Homo sapiens: one gene and its partner. The protein of the gene in region 2 interacts with the protein of the main gene of each other region in a pairwise test. Each region holds a gene or a part of one and is shown on either strand. Other genes may lie near its edges.

The links. The genes of interacting proteins can lie anywhere in the genome.
Region 1: the proteins of CARD10 (region 2) and ZNF366 interact in binary tests that used the Homo sapiens proteins (3 or more experiments, as listed by UniProt).

What each region holds. Positions count from the first base shown.
Region 1 is NC_000005.10:72,455,052-72,462,816, forward strand, and holds part of ZNF366 (zinc finger protein 366), read right to left. Parts: intron 6,460-7,765; 5' UTR 6,446-6,459; coding exon 5,114-6,445; intron 1,545-5,113; coding exon 1,353-1,544; intron 1-1,352. UniProt on the Homo sapiens protein: Has transcriptional repression activity. Acts as a corepressor of ESR1; the function seems to involve CTBP1 and histone deacetylases.
Region 2 is NC_000022.11:37,502,204-37,509,968, forward strand, and holds part of CARD10 (caspase recruitment domain-containing protein 10), read right to left. Parts: intron 6,480-7,765; coding exon 6,324-6,479; intron 5,752-6,323; coding exon 5,626-5,751; intron 4,181-5,625; coding exon 3,989-4,180; intron 2,567-3,988; coding exon 2,432-2,566; intron 2,099-2,431; coding exon 1,983-2,098; intron 1,011-1,982; coding exon 982-1,010; intron 523-981; coding exon 399-522; intron 1-398. UniProt on the Homo sapiens protein: Scaffold protein that plays an important role in mediating the activation of NF-kappa-B via BCL10 or EGFR.

The DNA of each region.
Region 1 (7,765 bases), on a different chromosome or scaffold from region 2:
GCCTGTGCTGCATGAAGCTGATTCTTGCTTTAGACGGATGTAAATTGACTTTCGAACCACTGGGAATATGAAGAAAAGGAGGGGAAACAGAAGTGGGTGGCAGGAAAAGGGCTGGAGGGAGAAGCCTCCCTCTCCCACCTCTGGACAATGCCCACACAGGTCTAGGGAAGCTCTGGTGTCTGACCCCTCACCCCTTCCAAGAGTTGCCAACACAGGAAAGAAGTCAGCTTCACAGGGGATTCCTTCAAGTGGGGCCACACTGCAGAGGTATTAAAGCAGGAACAGTCCCTGGAAACAGGGAACCCCACTTCAGGAATATAGATCAGCAGAGTATCATTTGAACCCGATTAGGTACCCAGTAGCAGAGAGAAAAAACCTCCATTTCAAACAGAAGGGCTGTAACGATATCTGAATGTGGTAATTTCCCTCTTCTTCCCCCTCAGCCTTCTTCATGACCGGATGACACTTGGCCAGTACATCACTCGGATTAAACCCAGTCATGGCCAATGCTCTCTCCTCATTTTAGAAGTAGAGAGAGGAAACACTCTTGTGGGGTGGGGACAGCCTCGGGGAGCCGGAGCATTTCTGAGTAATGCCCGTCAGCGCCTTGGGTTTTACAAATCTCCAGCTCACACGTTTTCTCGGCTGATGAAATACAAACCCAACCAAATTAGTCTAACAGATATTTTAACAAAGATGCTCCATCCCTGTGCTACATGGCACTTAGCAATAGGTGAAAGGCACTTGAAGTGACTGTGCTCGCAGTTATTCCACAGCCCCAGCAAGCATTTCTGAGGGCCTCTGAGGGGCTAGCTTTGGAATCCCTCTCACCGTCTCTAGGAGGCCTGCCCTCAAACTAAACATATGGCTCAGCCCAAGTGTCAAGAGGCAAGGAGAGGAGAGGAGGTGGCGGTGGGTGGGGGGGAAGCTGTGCTAGAAGCTTCTCTGACTCTTTTCTATGTCCTGCTCATTGCCTTGTAAGGAGAAGAAGGCTAAACTTGCCTTCTCCTCTCTAGAACAAAGGCTCTCCACATTACTTGCATCCTTTAACAGCCTCCTTCTCCAAAAGGGCCTTCCACCCTCAGACCTTTCCCTAGTGCCTGGCTCTACCCCTGGGCATGGATGCCACAGTGAGACAAATAGGGCAGGCTCCTTAGGGACCTCCAGCCTGGCATGATGTAAGTGGGGCGTGCAGAGAGGGATAGAGTGGCAGATGGGACCTGGGGTTGGCCACGGACCTACTCTGAGCCCCCGTAGCCCCACTGATGAAACAGAGTAGAAGGCTCCCTGGGGACCCTTTCCCATCAGGCATTTGCACAACCCTCTGGTTCCTCTCTAGTCCCACTGCCCACCTTGCATTTGAAAGGCTTCACGTCAGAGTGGACGATCATGTGTGCCTTGAGGGTCTGCTTCTGCACGAAGCTCTTGTAGCAGAGGTGACACTGGTAGGCGCGGATGTTGGTGTGGATCAGCACGTGTCGCTTCATGTTGGCCAGCAGGGTGAACTCCCGCCCACAAATCCCACACTTATGCTCCTTCACACCCTGCAGGGAGGCAAGATTCAGAAAAGTGGTGATTGACAGGTAACATGCTTTCATCAGGATCATAGGCTTCATTTTCCTCTCTGCCACATAAATCCACAAAGAGCTTGGTGATAGATGTTGAGTTTCAAATGGTGTAGCTTCAGCCTTGTTAAATTACTATTTTCTTGAAAAGTGTTGATTATATAACCTTTTTTTTCCTTCTGAAAACCATAAACTAGCCAGACTATTAGAGGAAAAGAAAGCTCTTGCTTTTGTTGTTCCAGCTGCTGCTGGGGTTAAGTCTCCAGTGATAGTTCTTGAGGATTAACAGGCTTTTAGTAAGAGCACTATGGGCTGATATGCAATATGAGTCCATAATCCAGCTTTCATGATAATGAAAAAAAAATCTTCCAAAATGATATTATCATTTCCCTTATGGAAACCAATGTTCTCTTGGGTTCTCATTAATGGACTTGAAAATCCCAGAACAACTTATATCCACACTGCAGTAAATTACAACTTAAATTACAACTTGATAATCACCCTCTCAAGTTGGTCCCCTGGGTTCCCACAGGCCACACTGACCTCCACAATGACATGGTTATGGAGCCTTCCCTAAGCCAGCTCCTTCTTATAAAGAAATTTGGCAAGAGGTAGCTTTCTGAATTAAGGAACAGGACAGGAGGCTTTCTTGTTTCCTTGCTGTGCATGAAGGTGTGTTTGAACCAAGGCCCTTAATTGAGAGCATTTCCAGGGACTCACAGCTTGAGCCGGGCATTCACTAATCCTGACTATCCATTGCTTCCCCACAAAGGCCTTTGCAAGAGGTCTTGACCCTGAATGACTTTTGGGAAGAAAAATTTAGAGAACCAGGGCACTAAACTGAAGGTTATCATAGGATTAGAACAAGTTACTTAGTTAACAACTGTACCTGATGAAATCCATATTGCCTGGTATTCATAGTGGCTGAAGGAGGGAAGGAGGGATTCCAAGCTCATCTCTGACTCTCTCTGTCTATGTTTCCATTTCTTTACTTTGAGGCATGGTAAGAAAGAACCACTCTGCAGTTCTGGTGGGCCCATGGTACTAAATGGTGGATTCAGGTCTCTGCCCAGCTGTTTACTGGCTGTAAAACCTTAGATGAGTCGTGTGGCCTTTTTTAGTGAAGGCTTCTCATCACAAGATGAAGTGGTGGGTCATGAGAACCCTGGGGTTCTTTCTAACTCAAGCACTGTCTAGTCCAGATGATGGTACATGAGTATGCATTTATGTTAATAAGGAGACCTAGAAATCAACCTCCTTTAGAAATTAAATTTTGATTCTGCCTATGGAGATGAATCTTTAAAATGTAGTGCATATTCAAACACTGAGTTTAAGATTATAAAATTAATGAAAAACATTTTCTTAATGGATTTTAAATTTTATTTTAGCATCTTTCTTTTTTTTTTTTTTTTTTTTTTGAGACGGAATCTCACTCTGTTGCCCAGGCTGGAGTGCAGTGGCGTGGTCTCGGCTCACTGCAAGCTCCGCCTCCTGGGTTCACGCCATTCTCCTGCCTCAGCCTTCCGAGTAGCTGGAACTACAGGTACCCGCCACCATGCCCGGCTAATTTTTTGTATTTTTAGTAGAGACGGGGTTTCACCGTGTTAGCCAGGATGGTCTCGATCTCCTGACCTTGTGATCCGCCCGTCTCGGCCTCCCAAAGTGCTGGGATTACAGGCGTGAGCCACCGCGCCCGGCCAGCATCTTTCTTCTCTCAAGATTTTCTCTGGGCTTGGATCTGATCCATTTGTCCTGAAACCAAGGAGACGTTTCTGCTTATCACTGTTTTCAGAATTCTTTAAAGAGAATTCTGTGTCCAAAGTAAGATTCACCTGTGGGCTGGCCTAGAATGCAAATGAGCAGGAGCCTGGACACAACTTTAAGGCAACAAAGGAAGCTGTTGTCTCTCTGATAGGATCAGTGGAATCACAGAGTCGGAGCCTGTCAGGTGGTCAGGGGTGCGAACAGGGAAGCAGGTGGAAAAGAGGAAGTGTTCACTGTAGAGTGGCCAAGGCACAGGTGCCTGTGTCAGAGATTCCTGAGTGACCTCCCATGCCTCAGTGTCTTCAACTGCAGATCGGGAGTAGCTCTTAGAGTTGTTGAGAAGTAAATGAGGATTAAATGAAGAGTGAAACACCTGTCATATAGCAAGTGTTCAACAAATACTACCTCTCACTGTTTGCTGACACCTCTCATTAAAGTGTATTTTGTTTTAATTAAAATTCAAATGAAACTTATTTCAGACACCAGGCTGTTTCTCCCATTTTGACTTCATTTTCTACCATCTTACAGGATCTTCATATGCTCTAAAATGCACTTTTGATTCCTTTCCCACATATAAAGGAGCCCCTGAAGTTAGCGAATGGTCCCCTTTACGGCTGAATCCCAGTCTGGGTCCTTTGTTGATGGTTCCTGCACTTGGCAGGCGACTCCCCTCTGGATAGTATCTACAGGTACCTTTTGTAGGGCAGGAGCTGTTTGTGCAGAGCCCACAAGGCAGCCACACATTTCATCTCTGTGGCAGAGCCAGAAAATACCCTGTGTTTTGTCCTAACCTAAGAAGTGAAACGTATTATAGCACAGCAGAAACATTATCTTGGCTGGGCAAAGTCCTCTCCTGACCTTTCAGAATTAAAGAATGCTTTAGAAACTCTGGCTTGCTAGAAGTCTTTCCTGCCAAGAAAACCACTTGAGGTTAAGGGTGTGAGAGTGGGAGTCAGTGGGGGCAAAACTCCCTCTCGGAGGCTCAGAGCAGGTTCCATACTTTAGCTGGGGTAAGATTTCAGGAACACCACTAGGGCCTTGTTTTAGTTCAGCCTGAATGACTCCAGGGCTATGGTTGCAAACTGGGCTGAACTCAGACTCTTGGGCCTGTATTTCCCCTTGAAGACCTGAGCACAGAGAAGATCAAACAAAACCAAACAGAGAAGGATGCTTTCTCATGCCTCCTACAATGTAAACCACAGGGCACTTCACCCAGCTAGGCACGGGTCCAACGCAGGGAGGTATAGGCCCTGCCGGCCTCAGCCAAGCTCTGCTTCCCTTGGAGAACTTGCATATGAAGCAGGTCTCACAGTTGAGGGAGAAAACAATCCAAAAAGTTTTCCACTGCTTCAACAGTACAAGACGAAGAGAATTATCCAGAAGGTGCTCCCTGGCACATCCCAGGCACAGAGCTGATCTAGGGTCTGATGACTTACTCATGCTAGTGCCTTGGATGAAGTTTCTAGAAACCGAATCTGCAAGATTCTTGGAGGCTAGGGAGCATCCTTCCTCATCTCCTCTGCAAATGTCTGCATTATTTATTTCTAGGCCTACCTTAGAGTCTAGAAGGCTGCTGGGGCAAAGGGCTTGGTCGAGAATCGTTCTCTCTTATTTAAACGTGAGGAAGGACCTCAGGGCTCGGCCAAGGGACCGCTTGTCCGGGGTTGCCCACCTCCTCGGGGTAAGGTGCAGAGCGGCACAGGCGTCCTGCTCCCCAGTGCTCTGCTCAGGGCCCCGCTCCTCTTCCCAAGGCCCCGTCCGCCCCACCAGAGGCCCCGCAGTACCTTGTGGGTGAGGGAGTGCTGCTTGAGGTGGTGCGGCTGCACAAACTCCATGCCACACTCTGAGCAGATGTAGGGCCGGATGTCCTTGTGCTTCATCATGTGGTTCTGCAGCTGGCTCGGGTACTGGAAGGTCTTGTCGCACTCGGAGCAGTTGTACTGGATGGGGCCCCGGTGCGTGGTGAGGTGTCTCTTCAGCTGGGCCAAGGTGGGGAAGTCGAGGCCGCACTCCACACAGATGTTCTCGCGCCCACTGGCGTGCTTGGCTTCGTGGGCCTTGAGCTCGCTGGGGTAGGCAAAGCCGCGGCCGCACACGCGGCAGTTGTGCGGCTTCACCTCGCTGTGCTGCATCATGTGGCGCTTCAGGTGGCTGGTCTGGGTGAAGGCCTTGTGGCACACCTGGCACTTGTGGGGCCGCGTGCCCTGGTGGGTCAGCATGTGGGTATGCAGGTGGCTGAGCTGCTTGAAGAGCTTCCCGCAGTGCGTGCACGCGTGCGGCTTGATCCCACTGTGGCCCAGGATGTGGGTGACCAGGTTGTACTTGGAGGTGTAGGACTTCTCGCAGGTGGGGCACTGCCAGCGCTTCTGCGAGCCGCCCACGTCCACGTAGTAGCTGTCATCGATCTGCACGTTCACGTCCACCCTCTCCACCTTCTGCTTGGTCTCCTCGCTCTCCTGGGGCTCGGCTTTCCGGGGCAGCAGAGGTTCCGGGGGCTGCTTGGGCAGGAAGGTGTGCCGGCTGAAGGGGAAGGGCGAGGACGAGGGCACGAAGAAGGGGAACATGAGGCCCGGGTGGACTTTGGGGTAGTAGGGGTAGGGCGTGGGCAGGAATGGAGTGGGCGTTGGCTGGGGCCACACGGCGCTGGGCTTAATGGGTTCCTGCTTGACGGGCTTGCCCCCAAAGTGTTCCAGGCTGCGGTAGAATTGGAAGCCCACGTTGCACAGGTCGATCATCTGAGAGTCATACTTGGGGCGCGGGGGCTGCGGGAACAGCAAAGGGAGGTTGGGAAGGCCGTGGTTTTTGTTCTCCTCTGAGTGGAGGGCGAGGGTGACTTCTTCTGCAGGGTGGTTATAGGGCATCTTTGTGGGCATGCTCTTCCGTTTCCTAGACCCTGCTCCTTCGAAGACCCCGGGGAACCCATCTAGGTCTCCTGGGGGAGGTTCATACCGAAACTGGGAAAATGGCCCTCGGAGAGCTTCCGGGAAGGGGTGTCTTTGGGGAGCCTTTCCCCGAGAAGCCACTGGCTGCAGGCAGTGGGGAAAGGAGGGGGTCTTCTTCACAGCCAAGTCGAAATGCACATCCTCGTCTTTGATCATCTTCATTTCCTTCTGCATCCTTGGCAATTTTCCTTTAAAGAGAAAGAAACTTGTGTGTTTTGGTTTGGTTTTGTTTAAAATTCTCTTTTTCCTTAAGGATTATGGCTATTTATCAGTACTAATTTATGAAGAGTAGTACTTGCTTAATATGGACCCTCATTTATCCTAGGGCTGTTCAAAATATCGCTTTTCTTTCTCCTTGCAAACCCAGTTATCAATATGGATAGCACTGGCCTCTTGGGGTGACCCTAGGGCTGAATCAAATTGGGCTCCAGTGTAAATCCAGCCACAAAACCACAAGGGGTGATGGTAGCAAGGGAAGTGGACTAGTTTGGGAAGAAACCTGAGAACTCATCTGGCCATTGTCCCCATTTAAGATCAGGGTACCAAAGTCCAGATAAATGAAATGACATTCTCAAGTTACATAGGTACTCACTGAAGGAGTGAGCACTAGACCCATTCTGCTGCAGCTTTTCAATCTGAGTTGTAATTACATCTACTAATGGTGATTGGAAAGTGACTTTTAGGGTCTTTTCTTTGTGTAAGGAAACCAATTTTCACTGCTACTCCCTTGCTTGGGCCTTTGCTGCTGGAAAATGAGGATATTCAAAGCCTCATAGGAGAAGGGATGTTAATGCTTAACTCAGATCTAATCGTTTCTGAGTATCCACTCTGAGTAAGGTGTGCTACTAAGGCATAGGGAGTGAATGACATAAACATGATTTTAAAAAGCATATTGAGTAGCTCAATGTTATAAAGTCATCCTGGCAATGTACACATTCCACTCTTAAACCTGAAGCAAGCTGGAATGAAATATTCCTTTATTATGTGAAATAAAGCCGCACATGGGTCTCTCCTTTCAGACAGGTGTCAAAGTAAGGGGCAGGCTTGGTGACTCCTGTGGTGCCTGACATGTCCCCTGCTGACACAGCCAGTTACTGTGTCCTGAGACATAGGCATGTCTGAAAGAGCTGGTGGTGGGACTAGAGTCTGAACAAGGGGCAGTGTTTTTCACGTCTCCTTGCCAGTTTTCTTTCTTTCTTTCTTTCTTTCTTTCTTTCTTTCTTTCTTTTTTTTTTTTTTTGGAGATGGAGTCTGGCTCTGTTGCCCAGGCTGAAGTGCAGTCCAGTGGCACAATCTTAGCTTACTGCAATATCCGCCTCCTGGGTTCAAGTGACCCTTGTGCCTCAGCCTCCTGAGTAGCTGAGATTACAGGTGTGCGCCACCACGCCCTGTTAATCTTTGTGTTTTTAGTAGAGACGGGGTTTCACCATGTTGGCCAGGCTGGTCTTGAACTCCCGATCTCAAGTGATCCACCCGCCTCGGCCTCCCACAGTT
Region 2 (7,765 bases):
TCCCAGGGACTCAGAGCCAAGGGACTGACAGGCAGGACATTGGGACGAGGACAGCTTGTAAGTGACAACTATTACTAAGCACCTGCTACATGCCTGGCAGAGCTGGGTGCTTTGCTTCTGCGAGCAGAGCCCTCAAAAGACCTCCATGCAAAAAGGGTCATCATCTCCCTTTAGCTACTGAGGAAATGGAGGCCCAGAGAAGTGAAGGGACCAGCCCAAGTCACAGGGACGATCAAGAGCGGCAGCAGGATTGGAATCCAAGGGCTGCCAGTGTCTACAGATCTTAATCTTCCAATAGTTGCATAAAACAGGGGCGAGGCAATTGCTCCTCCCACCTCACTCCTGTTCCCCTCTCAAGCAATCACCCCAGCTCCACCCACTGCAGGCAGCTACAGTACCTGTTGAGGAAGTCCAGGCCACAGCCCCGAGCCAGGAGGCCTTCCGGCTTTCCCAAAGGCCACACGCTGTCAGAGGATGAGGACGAAGAGAGGCCAGGGGACCAGGGCTTAAGTGTCACACTCCCTGGGGAAAAAGAATGAGGTTCAGGGATCTGGCACTGGGAAACAGGGATGGCCAGGGTCCATGACAGGGACTGACCCCCCTCCAGCCCAGAGAGGCCTTGGCAGGTTTGAGGCCCCAGGAGCACATCAGACCCACTGGGCTCAGAGATAGGTCAGGGCCCACCAGGCTGACCCCGCAGTTTCCCAGAAGAGGGTGAAAGGTGGCCCAGAACTGAAGAGCCTCGTACATCACAGCCGGGAACAGGAGTGAGGCCCAGGACTGGGCTCGGGGTGAGAGGCTGGAACCAAAGTCCCCAGGGTCCTCCCAAGCACAACCTTCCTGCCTGGCAGGGGCCACGGCGGGGCTTCAGGGAAGGGGATGCAGGCCAAAGGTAGCGCAGGTGGTGCAGGCTTCAGGTGGGCTGCAAAGCCACCTCCCCCGACCAGAGGAGCCCTCCCCACGGAACTCAAGGGCTGTTACCTGTGATGTCTGACATGCTGCTGAAGGATCTGGGCAGAGAGAGGGCAGGGAGGGGGCAGGAGGTGAGGCACAGTGGGCACTCTGCCCCGCTCCCTCCTCCTGCCCCCACACCAGATAAATGTCTCACAGCCCCCAAGCAAATGCAGGCTAGACTCAAGGCAGGGTCCCAGGTACAGGGCACCCATGCCACCTGGCTCCCCTAAACTCCCAGGGTAAGAAGTTAATGTCCTGGCCTCTGTCCAATGTTGTTCCACCTACAATGCCCTGGCATGCCCTTCAAAGCCAGCTCTTTCAATGCCACCTCCTCCTGGAAGCCACCCCTGATCTCTCACCCCTCACCTCACCCTCACTTGCCACCTTTGTGGTTTGTGACTCCCAGGTACGCCTCCTAAATTAAACCATGACCTCCTCATCAGACACCTCCTTGGGACAGATTTACGCAGATCAAGGCCATACTGACCACAGCCTCCCAGGGCCCAGCCTCTCACCAGTAAAGGAATAAATCAAGGGCTGCTTACAGGGGAAAAGCAGTGACAAGGATCGCGCCCCAGGAGGCAGGCTATCTCCCGCCCTTGGTCTTGCCACCAGAGGGTGCGCCTTGGTTTTTCTGGTCCCTATTTGCTGCTGATGCCCAAACCTGGGGCCTGGCTTTCTTGCCGGAGGTCCCTGATACCTTGAAACATTCTCCACGCCCCCTAGTCCTGAACCATCAAGCTTCTCCTTGGGTATAGGATCTTCAAGGCTTGACCCCCAGTGACCCTCCTGCCAGGATGCTTGGCTAGGACTGAGTTCGCTCTGCCCATCGGCCTTATCTTAAGCCTGACCTTGGTCGCCCCTGTGACTCACAGGACCTGGGTTTCCAGAGCTCCAGCCATCTGAGGGCAATAAAGGGAAGTGACTGCCTGGACCTGACTTTGGCATTGCAGATTCTGGGAGGTGGCTGTTCGGGAAACGGCAGCCCCACCTCCCTGGGTGTCTACTGCTATCCCCAGCCATCTCACCTCTTAGGGGGTGCGGGGTCTTCCTCACGCTGCCGGCGGAGGATGGAGCCGGCACTGGGGGGGAAGGGCAGGATGGAGAGCCGATTGATCTCCTTTTCACTGTCTGTGGCTTCCTCCTGCAATGCCATGACAGGGCCTGGGTCACCCCCACTGCCCAGCACCATCCCAGTCCTCAGCACACCTGGTTTGTGCCCATTCCACAAATGAGAAGTAGGGCCCAGAGCAGAAGAGCGGGCTCTGCAAGATTATAGTGTGCGGGTGGCTCCCCACGCCTCCTGGCACCTATGCCTGGCAAGGAAATGGTTCTGGGTGAGCTTCAGTAAAGTACTTGGCCTCCCTGCGCCTCAGTGTCCTCACCTGTGAAATGGATCCTTCAGAAAGCACTCTCCACATTAGTAATAATGCTATAGCAGTGTCCCCCCTTATTTGGGATGGGGCAGTTGTCTTACCGAGTTGTGAGGCTCAGGTCCCCCCATGACAGCTGCCTCCCCAGTTGCTTCTGGGCCTCCCAGAGGGGAGGGGAACTCGCTCAGGCTCCAAGTGCTGCTGAGGTTGGAGCACAGGGAATGGGAGGAGGCACAGGCCTGGAAGAGGGAGAGGAGAGGAAGGAGGTGAGCAGTGCTAGGCCCACGTCAACCACAGTCCTTTACTGAGCACCTGCCATGTGCCAGCACAGGGACAGATCCCTGTCCTCAGGGAGCTCACAGCCTAGAATGGGAGATAAACTGTAAACCAGCAGACATGTGAACAAAATAGCCCCAAGCTGAGACAATAGCAGAAGGAAGGTGCCCAGGGCATGGAAAACACACAAAGACCCCACCCAGCCTGGGAGTCCAAGTACTCTCCAAAGAAACTGTGGTTTGAACTGAGAACTCAAGGGTATAGAGGCGCTAAGTAGGTCAAGCTGGGATGGTCCAGGCAGATCAACAGCATGTGCAAAGGCCCTGAGGCAGGACTGTGATGCATTCCAGTTGAAAGACTGGAACCCACAGAACCAGGCGAGAGGACAAGAGGAACCCCACCCGCAGGGCCTCTTGGCCATGAAAAGGGACTCTGTCTTTACCAAACAGCAAAAAAGCCACTGGGGGTTAAAAAAAAAAAAAAGTCTTGGATTAATGCTGACTTTTCCTATATTCCTCCAGGCCCCAGTGCTTCAAACACCAGGCCTGCGGAGCTCACTGTCAGGCAACTCAAAATAAGAAAACGCAGGCTGGGCGTTCGCACCTCTAATCCCAGCACTTTGGGAGGCTGAGGCAGGAGGATCCCTTGAGGTCAGGAGTTTGAAACCAGCCTGGCCAACATGGTGAAACCCCCATCCCTACTGAAAATACAAAAAAAAACTTAGCTGGGTATGGTGGCAGGCACCTGTAGTCCCAGCTACTAGGGAGGCTAAGGCACGAGAATAACTTGAACCTGGGATCCAGCCTGGGTGATACAGCAAGATTCTGTCTCAAAAAAAAAAAAAAAAGGAAAAAGCAGAGCTCCCGGCAGCAGCCTGAGGACCACGATCCAATTTACAGTGGGTCTGGGACTCCAGCTCCAGTGCTAGCTGGCTGTGTGGCCTTGGGCAAGCCCCTCACCCTCTCTGGGCCCTGTGCGATGAGAGGATTAGACCAGCTGGTCTCTGAGGGATGCTTAGGCCCATGTTAGTCCTGACTAGCTGGTCTCTGAGGCCCAGGTTTTGCATTCTAACATGCACACAGGCACTCAGGCAGCCAGCCTTCCCCAGTTAAATGCAAAGACCAGCTCCAAACTATTCTTAGTGTCCCAGAAGCAACCCCAGAAACTCAGAGACCAACATGCCCCTCCGCCTGCTCACCAGCCCACACCCAGCCCAGCCTGGGTTCAAGTTCCCGCCCCTAACTGAGGACTCTTCCCACTTCCCCCAAGCTTCCTCCCCTGGCTGAGGTCTCCCACCAGGGCCGGCACGTTCCCAGCCCTGGCCAAGAGCTCCTGCCAGGACCCCAGCCTTCCTGCCAGGACCTCCACAATCTTGACCCGCTCACCTTGAGGCAGGTGCCACCCTGGGCCCGCTGCAGCTGAACCTCCAGCAGAGCCTTGGTGCCCTCCAGGCTGGTGAGCGTTGTCAGCAGCTCATCCCGCTCCGCCTCCAGGCCCCGCACCTGCTTGCGGTACTGGTCCTTCTCGATGAGGCTCTGTGAGTACTGCAACTGGATCCGGTCACGGCTCTGGATGGCCTAGGGTTGGGGGAGGGGAGGCAGCAGCTGAAGGAGCCACCTTGGCCCAGCTTTCCTGGCCTATGACTTGGAGAATGGGGACAGTAAGGAGAATGGCAGCTATCACTTACTGAGCACTGTGTGCCGGGCCCTGAGCTAAATTATCAGCTCATTTAAATATCTTCACACTAACTGGCTAAGTTAGATACTATTAATATCATTATTCTCATTCTGCAGACTGGGGAAACCAAGCCAGGAGCGACAGAGCTGGGATTCAAATCGGGCAGTCCATCTGCAGAATCCAGGCTCTCACCATTTCACCAAGAACTGAAAACTTTTCCACGAGACCTGCTGTGTGCCAGGGGCTTCACTCCCAGCATCCCAGTCAGTGGAGAAGCCAGGAGTCAAACCCAGCCCACTGCATCCACAGTGAAGACCAGGGGCTCCAGAGCTGGGCCCATGGTCCAGACCTGTCACCCATGCCTCAGAGAGAGCCGGGGGCAGCCCCATAAAATGCAGATTCCTGGGGCCCACCCCAGACCACCTGAATCAGAACGTCCAGAGAATGAAGCCCCAAATTTGCACTTTCAAGCTTGCCAGGGGATTCTGAGGGCATTTCTAATATGCAGACTTCGGCTGGGCATGGGAGCTCATGCCTTTGATCCCAGCACTTTGGGAGGCTGAGGCAGGTGGATCAGTTGAGCCCAGGAGTTCAAGACCAGCCTGGTCAATATAGTGAAACCCTGTCTCTACTAAAGATACAAAAATTAGCCAGGAATGGTGGCATGCCTGTAATACCAGCTACTTGGGAGGCTGAGGCAGGAGAATCACTTGAATCTGGGAGGCCTCAGTGAGCTGAGATTGCACCACTGCACTCCAACCTGGGCAACAGAGCTAGATTCAGTCTCAAAAAGTAATAACAACAATAATATACAGACTTCAACTCCTCTAGTGGGATTCACACCTGGTTAAGGACAAAAACCTCCTGCCCTTCCCCGCTGCAGATGGAACCTCACACAAGGAGGCTCGGGGGCCTGGTGGCACTGGCCGGAGGTCCTCAGCCCACCCCACAACCTTGGCAGGAGACAAGGGTCATAGTGCCCAGGGACTGAAAGCCAAAACTTTTGAGAATTTCTTCATCGGCTTCTATTTGTAAGCACTCCCTCTGTGCTGGCCTTGTCTTTGAGATGGACAGAACAAGGGATTCAAAAATGAAGACACCAGGACCAGCTTCTGTAACTGCCACAGGAGCTCAGATGAGGCCAGTGGGTCCAGGGTGTAAGGCTGGTATCTCAAGGGCTCCAGGTCTCCTGTCTGGTTCCCCCAGCCTTTGTGCCCCGTCCTAACCCAACAGGGAGCGGCTAACGTCTCTTTCTACCATTCTAGTCCCCTCCATTGCTCCTTGTCTCCTCCCATATGGGAAGCAGCAACTGGCCCAGGGCCTCGTACACGCAGGCTGGGCTCACCTGGTCTCGCTCCTTCTCAATCTCCTCCAGTTGGGCCAGGACAGTGGCCATGCGGTGCTTGTACAGGTCACAGTCCTTCTGCAGCGTGCGGTGCTTGAGCCGCAGGTCTTCCATCTCCTGCAGGTACTGAGGGTGGCACGGGGCGGGGTCAGACCACAGGGCTGGGGACCATGAGAAAGCTAACCAGCAGGTGCCCAGGAGGGCCAGTGAGAGACGCTCACCAACAGTCTGAGACCCAATAACAAGTCCCCTCCTGCCCAGTGGAGTGGTCTGAGCCACTGACTTTACCTCACAGGCCCTCAACTGCCTAATCTGTAAAACGAGAAGAATGATCATCATTTCACCCATCCGGCCACCCTTGGCCTCCCCACTCAAACTGCAACCGGCCCCTTCCCCAGCTCTGCATCTCCCACGGTGCTCATCGCCTTTGACTACATGAAATAGCTGACGTGGGACTGTGTATCTCACATACTGCCAGTCTCCCCTGCTGGAGTTCCCCCTCAAGGAAAAGGCACCTTTGTTTTGCTCACTGCGGCATCTCAAGCGCCTAGAAGGGTGCCTCCGTCAACATCTGAGAACAAATGAATGCAGTTCTCAGCGCGGCGCCTGCGTCAAGCAGATGCTCAGGGAAGGCGTGAGCACACAGGCCCTGCCTGACACCCTCCCGCACAAGGGGCAGGGCACGGGCAGGGCCCCACCTGGTCGCGCAGCTCCTCGGCCCACTGCAGCTCCCCCTGCACGGCATGCAGCTTCTGGCACAGCTCCTGCCTGCTGTCCTGCGCCTCCCGCCAGTCATGCTCTAGGATGTCCAGCAGGATGCGCTCGGAGCCCGGGGCCCCCGGCCGGCTCGCCTCCTGGGGATCACAGGGCAGGGCCACCTCAGGGTCTGGCTAGGGGCCCACCCTGGGTGTGGGAAGGAAGGGGACACGCAGCTCTCAGCCCTCCAAACCCACCTGACCAGCTCTGCCATGCTGGCCCGGGGCCTCGACCCTCTCTGGATCTCTGTCTCCCCATCGGCAGAGTGGGTGTGGCCCCACAAGCCCTACCCACCCTCCAGGGAGTATCTGGGGTACAAGTAAGCTAATAAGCTAAGTGGAGAAGGGTGTGACTGGACAAGTTCACCCAGGATTATTCCTAAACAAGCACCAGGCACACACTCGTGCTCTGGCCCTCACCCACCATCCAGGGCAGCAGACGGAGGCCATTCCCAAGACCTACTCCCACCCCCATGACTAGGGGTCTTCAAGGGGCTGAGCCTGGCCCATACAGGTAGACCCTGGGCCCAAGATCTTGCCCCCAGACCCACACCCCAGCCAAGTGCCCCAACCCCATGAAACACACTGGCTCTCATCCCCCACTTCCTGTGTGGAACAATGGCCAGGAGGCAGGCCCATGCAGCTGCTGACCTGCCACTGACCTGCCGCAGGACACTAAGCAAGCCCTAGGGCCCCCAGGCCACACCCTCTACAAATCAAATTAAAGCTGGGGCCCTTTCCCCAGAAAAATGCTCACACTCAAAATCAGGGGGGCAGTTTTAGGGAGTTTGAGGACCTTCTGGAGGCTGCTCACACACCCTAGACCAGACAACCAGGGACAGCCACGTGCTAAGGGCCCTCAGCTCAGAGCTTCAGGCAAGAGGCTACCGGGACTCCATCCAGATCTCAGATCCCTGGTTCTGAAATCCTCAGCTTCCCAGGCCTTGGGAGGATAAGCAAACAGCAAGAGGGCCTGTTTTCCGGGTCTGACCCCCACCCCCACTCCATGTCCACGAGCCCTGGCCCTAGTACCTGCTGCAGGCCCTCCTGACCTCCCCGCAGCCTGTGCCCATGAACGCTGGCCCTGGTACCTGCTGCAGGCCCTCCTGACCCCCCCTCAACCCCCATGGCCACGAGGCCCAGCCCTGGTACCTGCTGCAGGTCCTTCTGACCTCCCCCGACCCCCATGCCCATGGGCCCCAGCCCTGGTACCTGCTGCAGGCCCTCCTGACCTCCTGCCAGCCTGTGCCCACAAGCCCCAGCCCTGGTACCTACCGCAGGCCCTCCTGACCACCCCCCACCCCCGTGCCCATGGGCCCCAGCCCTGGTACCTGCTGCAGGCCCTCCTGACCTCCTGCCAGCCTGTGCCCACAAGCCCCAGCCCT